Regions from separate parts of the Homo sapiens genome. Here region 2 is reported to be linked to region 1. The links are microRNA targets in miRTarBase. Many come from high-throughput screens and were not tested one by one. Region 1 holds a microRNA gene; the other region holds the end of a gene's coding sequence.
What was found. The annotated mature microRNA hsa-miR-6511b-5p reads CUGCAGGCAGAAGUGGGGCUGACA and lies in region 1 at 2,997-3,020, opposite strand. An mRNA with a match to its seed (bases 2 to 7 or 8) in the 3' UTR can be bound and repressed. Matches are read on the target gene's strand: a 7mer-m8 pairs with bases 2 to 8, a 7mer-A1 pairs with bases 2 to 7 and ends in A, and an 8mer does both.

Region 1 (4,335 bases):
CACGGCCGCAGGGTTGCTGCTGTCCAGGGTGACCACAGCACCGACGGAGGCCTGGGGCTGGACCACAACGGAGTTGGCAGAGCTGCGGTGGCCCCGGGCAGCCCAGTCCGAGTTGTTGGGCACCTTCACGGTGATGGCGCGCTCTGAGGCCAGCCGCTCGATGGGGATCTGGGCGCCGGCCTGTGTCTGGAACGCCATCGAGGCCACCTTGGTGGAGACGGTGTAGTTGCTGATATAGCCAAAGGGAAAGGGATTGGAGTCCACCAGAAAGATGAGCTGCACCACGTCACTGAGGTTAGCCGGGGCCCTGCTGAAAGCCTAGGGGATGGAGAAGTGGCAGCCAGGCCCTGGGGCGCCGCCATAGCACAGCAGGCTCCGCGGGTCCGAGCGCTTGCCCTGGGCCACGATCTCCTCGCCCGCCAGTGTCAGGGGCTCCTCGTTGAGCACGCGGGAGCGCGTGAGGATGCGCATGAGGGCAGAGGTCAGGTTGTAGGCCTGGGACGCCACCATCCGCGATGGTGACTCGGCTCCCAGCTCTGAGCGCTGTGGTGCCCGCACGTCTGAGCTGGCCAGGTGGATGAGGTCTCCTGCAGACAGACGTGAGGTCAGTGCAGAGACAGGGAGGCAGAGGGAGGGTGGGGGCAGGCAAAAAGGGGGAGCCGGAGGGTGGGGGCTGGGAGAAAGGGGGAACCTGAGGGGGCAGAGAGCGAGGTGCAGGCAGAAGAAAGGGGGAAGCTGGAGAGAGAGTGGTGGAGGGGGGAGGGGGAAGGGGATGGGGATGAGGACGAAGATGAGGGGGATGATGGGGAGAGGGAGGAAAAAGGAAGGAAAAGGGTAGAGAAAAGAGAAAGGGGAGAAGAGGAGGAGCAGGGGGATAAGGGAGGGGAAGGGGGATAAGGGGATAAGGGAGGGGAAGGAGGATAAGGGGGATAAGAAAGATGAGGGGAATGGACAAAAGGACGGGGAGGATCGGGGGGGAAATGGAGAAAAGGGGAGAGAGATGGAGAAAAGGGATGGTAATAGGGAAGGGGGAGGGGGAGGAGAATGGGAATTGGGGGAGGGGGATAAGGATGGGAAGGGGGAGGGGAGGAAGGGGGAGGGGAGGGGCTAGGGGAGGGAGGGGCTGGGGGAGGAGTGGAGGGGCTCAGCGGGAGGAAGTGAGGGGAAGGTCTAGGGGAGGGGAGGAGGAGAAGGGCTAGCGGAGGGGAGGGGAGGGGGCAGGGGCTAGGGGAGGGGGGAGGGGCAAGGGGAGGGAGGGGGAGGGGAGGGGTTAGGGGAGGGAAGGGGCAGGGGAGGGGCTAGGGGAGGGAAGGGGGAGGGGAGGGGAGAGTGGAAGGCACAGAACAGCATCTTCTTAGTCCCTCCCCACATCTGGGCCCCTCTTTACACCCTGGGTCCCCCGAGAGGCACCCTGCGTTCACACAGGACAGCAGAAAGGCTGAGGCTACTGAAGCAGGTCAGAGACCGAGGAACGCCATGGCATGAAGGAGCCCAGGCTGGAGGCTCAGCTCCTCGGCCAAGCTGCCCGTCTGCCCTGGGGGGCTGAACCCAGTACCCTGGCAGGCATGCGGGGCGGGGTGAGCATGTGGGGCCATCCTACCATGCACTGGGCCAGCGCAGCAGCGATCTGCTGGATGTCATCCACAGTGTGGACCCTCAGGGACACCAGAGTCTCCGTGATGTTCTTGCGTATCTGGGCTCGGCGCTGCCGCTCGTGCTTGGGCTCTGCCGCCACGTCCAGGGCCCGCTCGTACTGGGGCAGGCAGGCGGCACAGCAAGCTGTCAGCAGGGCAGGAGACCGGCAGGAGGCCAGCAGATGCCCACGACTCCCGGGGTGCAGTTACGTGCTAGATGCTGTGTGATGTGGGCATTGACCCGCAACACTGAGCTGTTTCTTCATGGGCAAAACAGGGTAAGCACATGGGCCCTCCTGGGCGGGGGCTGCATTGTGGAAAGCAGACGCCGGAGAGGGCCCGGTGGGTGTGGCTGCTGGGAGCGGAACGTCGGGGTGCTGCTTCAGGGTCACTGGGATTTATCTCTGGGGCCCGGGATAAGCCCTCCGCAAAGCTCCAGGCAGGGGTACAGGTCTTGGTCCCCAGCACGCATGCAGCAGATGTGAGGTCCCCTGCCAGGCTGCACTCACCTCGTTCAGGACGGTGACCAGGGCCAGCGAGTACTCGATGACGTGCTGGGGATCGGCCTGCCGCAGCAGCCCCGGGAGCACACTAGCGGTGAGCCCGTGCAGCCAGACTGTGAGCCCCATTGCGCTGCCGTTGGGCTCTGGGAGGGTGATGGCCAGAGACCTACGAGCAGAGGGGGGTGGTGAGCAGGTGGCAGTCTCGGGGGCGCCCTCCCACGGCCTGGCTCACCTGTTGAGGGCGACCACAGCGGCTCCCAGCTGGTCCTGCACCACCACGGCCAGGCCCACCTCGAAGTGTGGCCTGAAACCCGGGGGCAGCACGGCTCCGTAGCCGGAGAGGCTGCCCTTGTAGACACAGAACTCCTCGCAGTGGCCCTGGCGACAGCGCTGCAGCAGCAGGGCGTACACCAGCGGGGCGCCAGCATCCTCCGCGTCATGCCAGCCTGAGGGACGGTCCCCATGGCATCACGGGAGGGCTCCGTGACGTCACAGTCGGGGGATCCCGCTGCTCCCCCTAAGCAGGCCTGTACTCACCCGTGCATTCGAAGTGCACCTTGGTGGTGAGGGCGTGCACAGCGCCCAGTGGGAAGAGGCGGCAAGAGCCCCCCAGCGGCGGGCGGTTGGGGGACAGGGGGATGGAGGCGCAGCCCTCCTCCTCGCCAGAGCGGCCCAGCACCGTCAGCGTGAAGGTGTATCCCTCGCCGTCCCGCAGCACGCCCCGCCGCAGCACCAGTCACATGCCTGCGCTGCCCGTGGATGTGGTGGTCTCATCCAGCACCAGTGTCTTGTTGCTGAACGTACGTGCAGCCCACCGCTGCAGGCAGAAGGGGTGGTGAGGGGGCGCAACCCTCTGCCCTGTCAGCCCCACTTCTGCCTGCAGGCCCCGTCCCCTCGGCCATGGGACCCATCCCCAGCCCGCCCACACCCCGCTCAACACTCACCCCTCGCTTGGAGCCGCTGCTGCAATTGAGGCAGCGGCCCTCCAGGTACACGTAGGAGCTGCGGCTCACTTCGTACACGGCCTGTGCCTTGCAGGACACACACTCCAAGGACACAATGGGCACCCGGCCACTGCGGATCAGCACCTGGCGTGGGAGTGGGGTTACCTCCAACACAGGTCTATTTGGCCTGCTGGAAGGTCTGGGGGACCCGTGGAGGATGCTGCTCCCAAACTCCAGGTTTCCCAGGGGCCTGGCCACTGCCGGTGAGCTCACCCCCTCCCAGGATACTCATCCGGTTTGCCACCTTCCAACCTGGGCGGCGGAAGGGCATACACAGGGCAGAGGACACTGGGGTGTGCGTTCTGGTGTACTGGAGCCAGCTGGACCCTGACAGGAGGCAGGCAATGCTCACTGAGGGCCCCTGGGGGGATGCGTGTGGGAACAGACGTATGTGGGGGTGTGAGGACCGCAGTTGCCACGTAGGCCTGACTCACAGACTCCTGCAGCCCTTAGCCAGGGCCTGGGTCAGGAGGCTGAGCCGGGATGGAACCTGCTCCCACACCCTCCCCTCAGACGACCCCTCTGGGCAGACCCCCAATCAGGCCCGTTGAGGAAAGCAGGGACTGGGGAACAGACACCCACTCTGGGGCACCAGCAGGCCCCGCCTGACAGCAGCAGGAGCAGCCACCACGGGCTCAGGGTCACCAAGCCTCCTGGCCGGTCCAGAGTGGGGAGCGTGAGGGTGAGAACCGGCCCACCACATCCAGCAACAGGGACATGGGCTGGGGACAGTGGCTGCCTCTGGGGTGGGAAGGGGCTCTTCCTCACTGTTGGTATTGCTGGGGGACTGTGTAGCTTTTGTCACTAGAGCATATGTGGCTTGAAGACTGTATGTGGAACTGTGGCAGGTTTGGAAGGAAGCAAAGCTGAAGCAGGCTGTCGTGTTACGTAGAATTTGCATCAGAAACAGAGAGGGAAGAGCGCGCGGCCTCCACCAGCACTAAAACACGGAAAACAGTAGATGAGCAGGGAGGTTGGGCTGTCCAAGGCAAGTGGCCGAGGGGCGGGCGGCACCCACCGTCTGGTTGGTGGCCTCCTCCTTGCGGCCGGCCTTCCACACGGTGAGGCTGAAGGTGTACTCCACGCCAGCCGCCAGCCGTTCCCGTGGAATGGTGACCGTGCTGCTCCCGCGGGGCCCAAAGTTCAGCGCACACCCGCCAGCCTCCCTCTGCAGGCCGAGAACAAGGGGCGACG
Region 2 (3,000 bases), not on the chromosome of region 1:
AGATGTGAAAGAGCCTGAGAGCTTTCCTTTTGTGATTCTGGGTAACAAGATTGACATAAGCGAACGGCAGGTGTCTACAGAAGAAGCCCAAGCTTGGTGCAGGGACAACGGCGACTATCCTTATTTTGAAACAAGTGCAAAAGATGCCACAAATGTGGCAGCAGCCTTTGAGGAAGCGGTTCGAAGAGTTCTTGCTACCGAGGATAGGTCAGATCATTTGATTCAGACAGACACAGTCAATCTTCACCGAAAGCCCAAGCCTAGCTCATCTTGCTGTTGATTGTTAGATTGTTGATGCATTCTAACCAACTCACACATATACACAAAATCAACATGGGGATGGAGAAGAGAATTAGCGTTTGCAGCAGTGTATCATCTACTAATAAAATTAAACTAATGTTGCTGCTTCATTAGTTGGTGGGAGAAGGGACACATCCACTCTTGGAGGAATATATTTACTCAATAATGGCACCTTACATTTATAAATTGTAACAGTTGTCTAATAACGTTTCTTTAATTTAAATATGTAAGTTGCAGAGCTAATAAATGAAATGACCAAGACTTTAATTATAATAAAAATAAGAAACTTGACTATTCTAGAAGTTATACTTGGATTTTTTCCTGGGAAAATGGAGAACTACTTTTTATATGTGTATGTTTTTATGCAATTAGCATTGTATTCTTGGTTCAGGGAAATACTTTCCTAAAGCAATAATGTTAGATATTAAAGATTAAAATCTAATGTATTTGCAATGCATTGTTAATTTACTTCTTCATTCTCTTCAAAATGATTTAACCATTCCTGTTTTCATTCTACATACTAGAATTACTCTCACTAGTAATTACTCATCATTTGTGTGCCATTCATGCACCCCCACCCCCATAAATCATGTTCCACAGTCTCAGGCGGAGGGTGGGCCCCCAGTGGTACAAGAGTTGCTTCATACAGTCTGTAATACATCCAGCTAAATTCAAGTTGTCTATGAATGGAAAGCCTTTCCATAGATAGAGTTCAGTTTTAAGAAAAAGGCTAACTACTGAACTTGGAGAACAGACAAATGTGCATTTGATAACTGATGTAATAATTACAATGTACTGTGTGGAAGATACAAAATTACAATTCGATTAATGGACTAAATATTTTTGTTACTTTCTTGACCCTTGGGGAAAGTTTCTTAATTGAAGTTAAAACATTCCTTTATAACACAAGACACAAGCTGACTTTATCACTCTCAGAAGAAATACTAAGAAGGATTGTACTTTGTGAGAGGGTAAACGAAGACATCTTTATTCGGCAATGTATTTACTTAGTGTCTTCTCTATTACTGAACATTTAGTGATTTGCTCTCAAGGAGATTTTTTGTTAGAAAAAGACTTGTTGCAGTGATCAGACTTGATAAAGCAAATTGTGGTCTTTTGTGGATGAAGTTCATATGCTGTGTGGTTGGTGACTATCTGATTCTATGGAGGCTAACCAAAGCCTAGACTGAGTGTGGATGAGACCCTCAACTGGGGAGTGATGGGGATATCAAAGGACATGCTGGGTGAGAGGAGCTGACTGTCATGTAGGGAGTGAACCACTGCCCCCAGCAGAGATACAGTTCGGTTTTAAGAAAAAAGGCAAGGCCAGGCGCGGTGGCTCACGCCTGCAATCCCAACACTTTTGGAGGTCAAGAGGTCGACACCATCCTTGACAACATGGTGAACCCGGTCTCTACTAAAAATACAAAAATTAGTTGGGCATCGTGCCTGTAGTCCCAGCTTCTCGGAAGGCTGACGCAGGAGAATCACTTGAACCCGGAAGGTGGAGGTTGCAGTGAGCCGAGATCACATCACTGCACTCCAGCCTGGTGACAGTGAGACTCCACCTCAAAAAAAAAAAAAAAAAAAAAAAAAGCAAACTACTGAACTGGAGAACAGACAAACCTGCATTTGTTAACTGATGTAACAATTACAATGTGCTGTGTGGAAGATACAAAATTACAATTCATTAATGGACTAAATGTTTTTATTTTTCACCCTTGGGGAAAGTTTCCTAGTTGAAGTTAAAACATTCCTACTATTACTTGTCTTAGAAGAAAACCTTTTTATATTTCTGTACAAACTTTTCATTTTAATATTGTGACACCACCATGCAAGTTCTCACACAATATCCGTGTCTTGTAGAGTAGTGAAGTGTTTGTTAAGTAGAAAAACACACCAGTGTGGTACCCAGTGAAAGGTGGTGTCTGGAGAGTCAGTGGTTTCTGGAACTCTGGACTGTCAACCAGGAAGTGTTGAAGTGACTGAAAAATTAAAGCACATGGGTAATAGCATGGGCAGAGCAGAGACTGAGACGATCTATGTCCATGCCAAAGGAAGCATCCTAGTAAGTTTCTGGCTATGGCAAGATGACAAAACTCGGTGTACGTTTTATCTGGATCACTTTTGGAGCACTAAAGCAGATAACCAACTTTGTGCTAACATACATGTGCTCAGGAGAGCCTGATTTTAAGACTGACTTCACCCCATTGCTCTTGTGTTCCAGAACCTTCAAGGAACATCACCTACCAGATCCAAGCTTTGCCAGCTTAGCTTTCCTCATGATCAGCTCCTATCTATCTATCAATCAATCAGCTGTCAGTTCCACCCATGTGCCCAAGTGCTCTTCACACCTTCACACCTGCAATGCTTTCCTGTGCAGCCTACCTTGGAGGTCCCACTCAATGCTCCACTTCCCTTCCAGCTCCTTTGAAGACTCAGTCACACATGAAATTTGGCATTTAACTTTAGTAATATACTCACAAGTGTGTTACTAGTGCCTACCTCACCTTCACCAGCCTGGAGAAAAGGCTATTTTCAGGGTACCACTGTTGTGCAGCTGAGCCAAGTCTTCCTGCTCTCAATCAATCACCCTGCTGCTCTTGGCTGCCCTGCATCACAGCCCTCTGGATGATATGCTCATTGAGGGAGGGGCCAACTATATACAAAAAAATACACGTTTGCTGAAATTACTCCTAG

Region 2: miRTarBase lists RAB9A as a target of hsa-miR-6511b-5p. The part of its 3' UTR that is shown has no 7-base or 8-base seed match.

Annotation. Positions count from the first base shown.
Region 1 is chr16:15,131,121-15,135,455 of GRCh38, forward strand. MIR6511B2 (microRNA 6511b-2) reads right to left here and starts at 3,025; the gene lies at 2,955-3,025. It also overlaps a transcript of PDXDC1 not described here, the pseudogene PKD1P6-NPIPP1 and the pseudogene PKD1P6.
Region 2 is chrX:13,709,073-13,712,072 of GRCh38, forward strand. RAB9A (RAB9A, member RAS oncogene family) reads left to right here. Exons shown (of 3, transcript NM_004251.5): 3 at 1-1,432. The coding sequence ends at 280. Among named protein-coding and RNA genes, the nearest start is that of RAB9A, 21 kb to the left of the region's middle.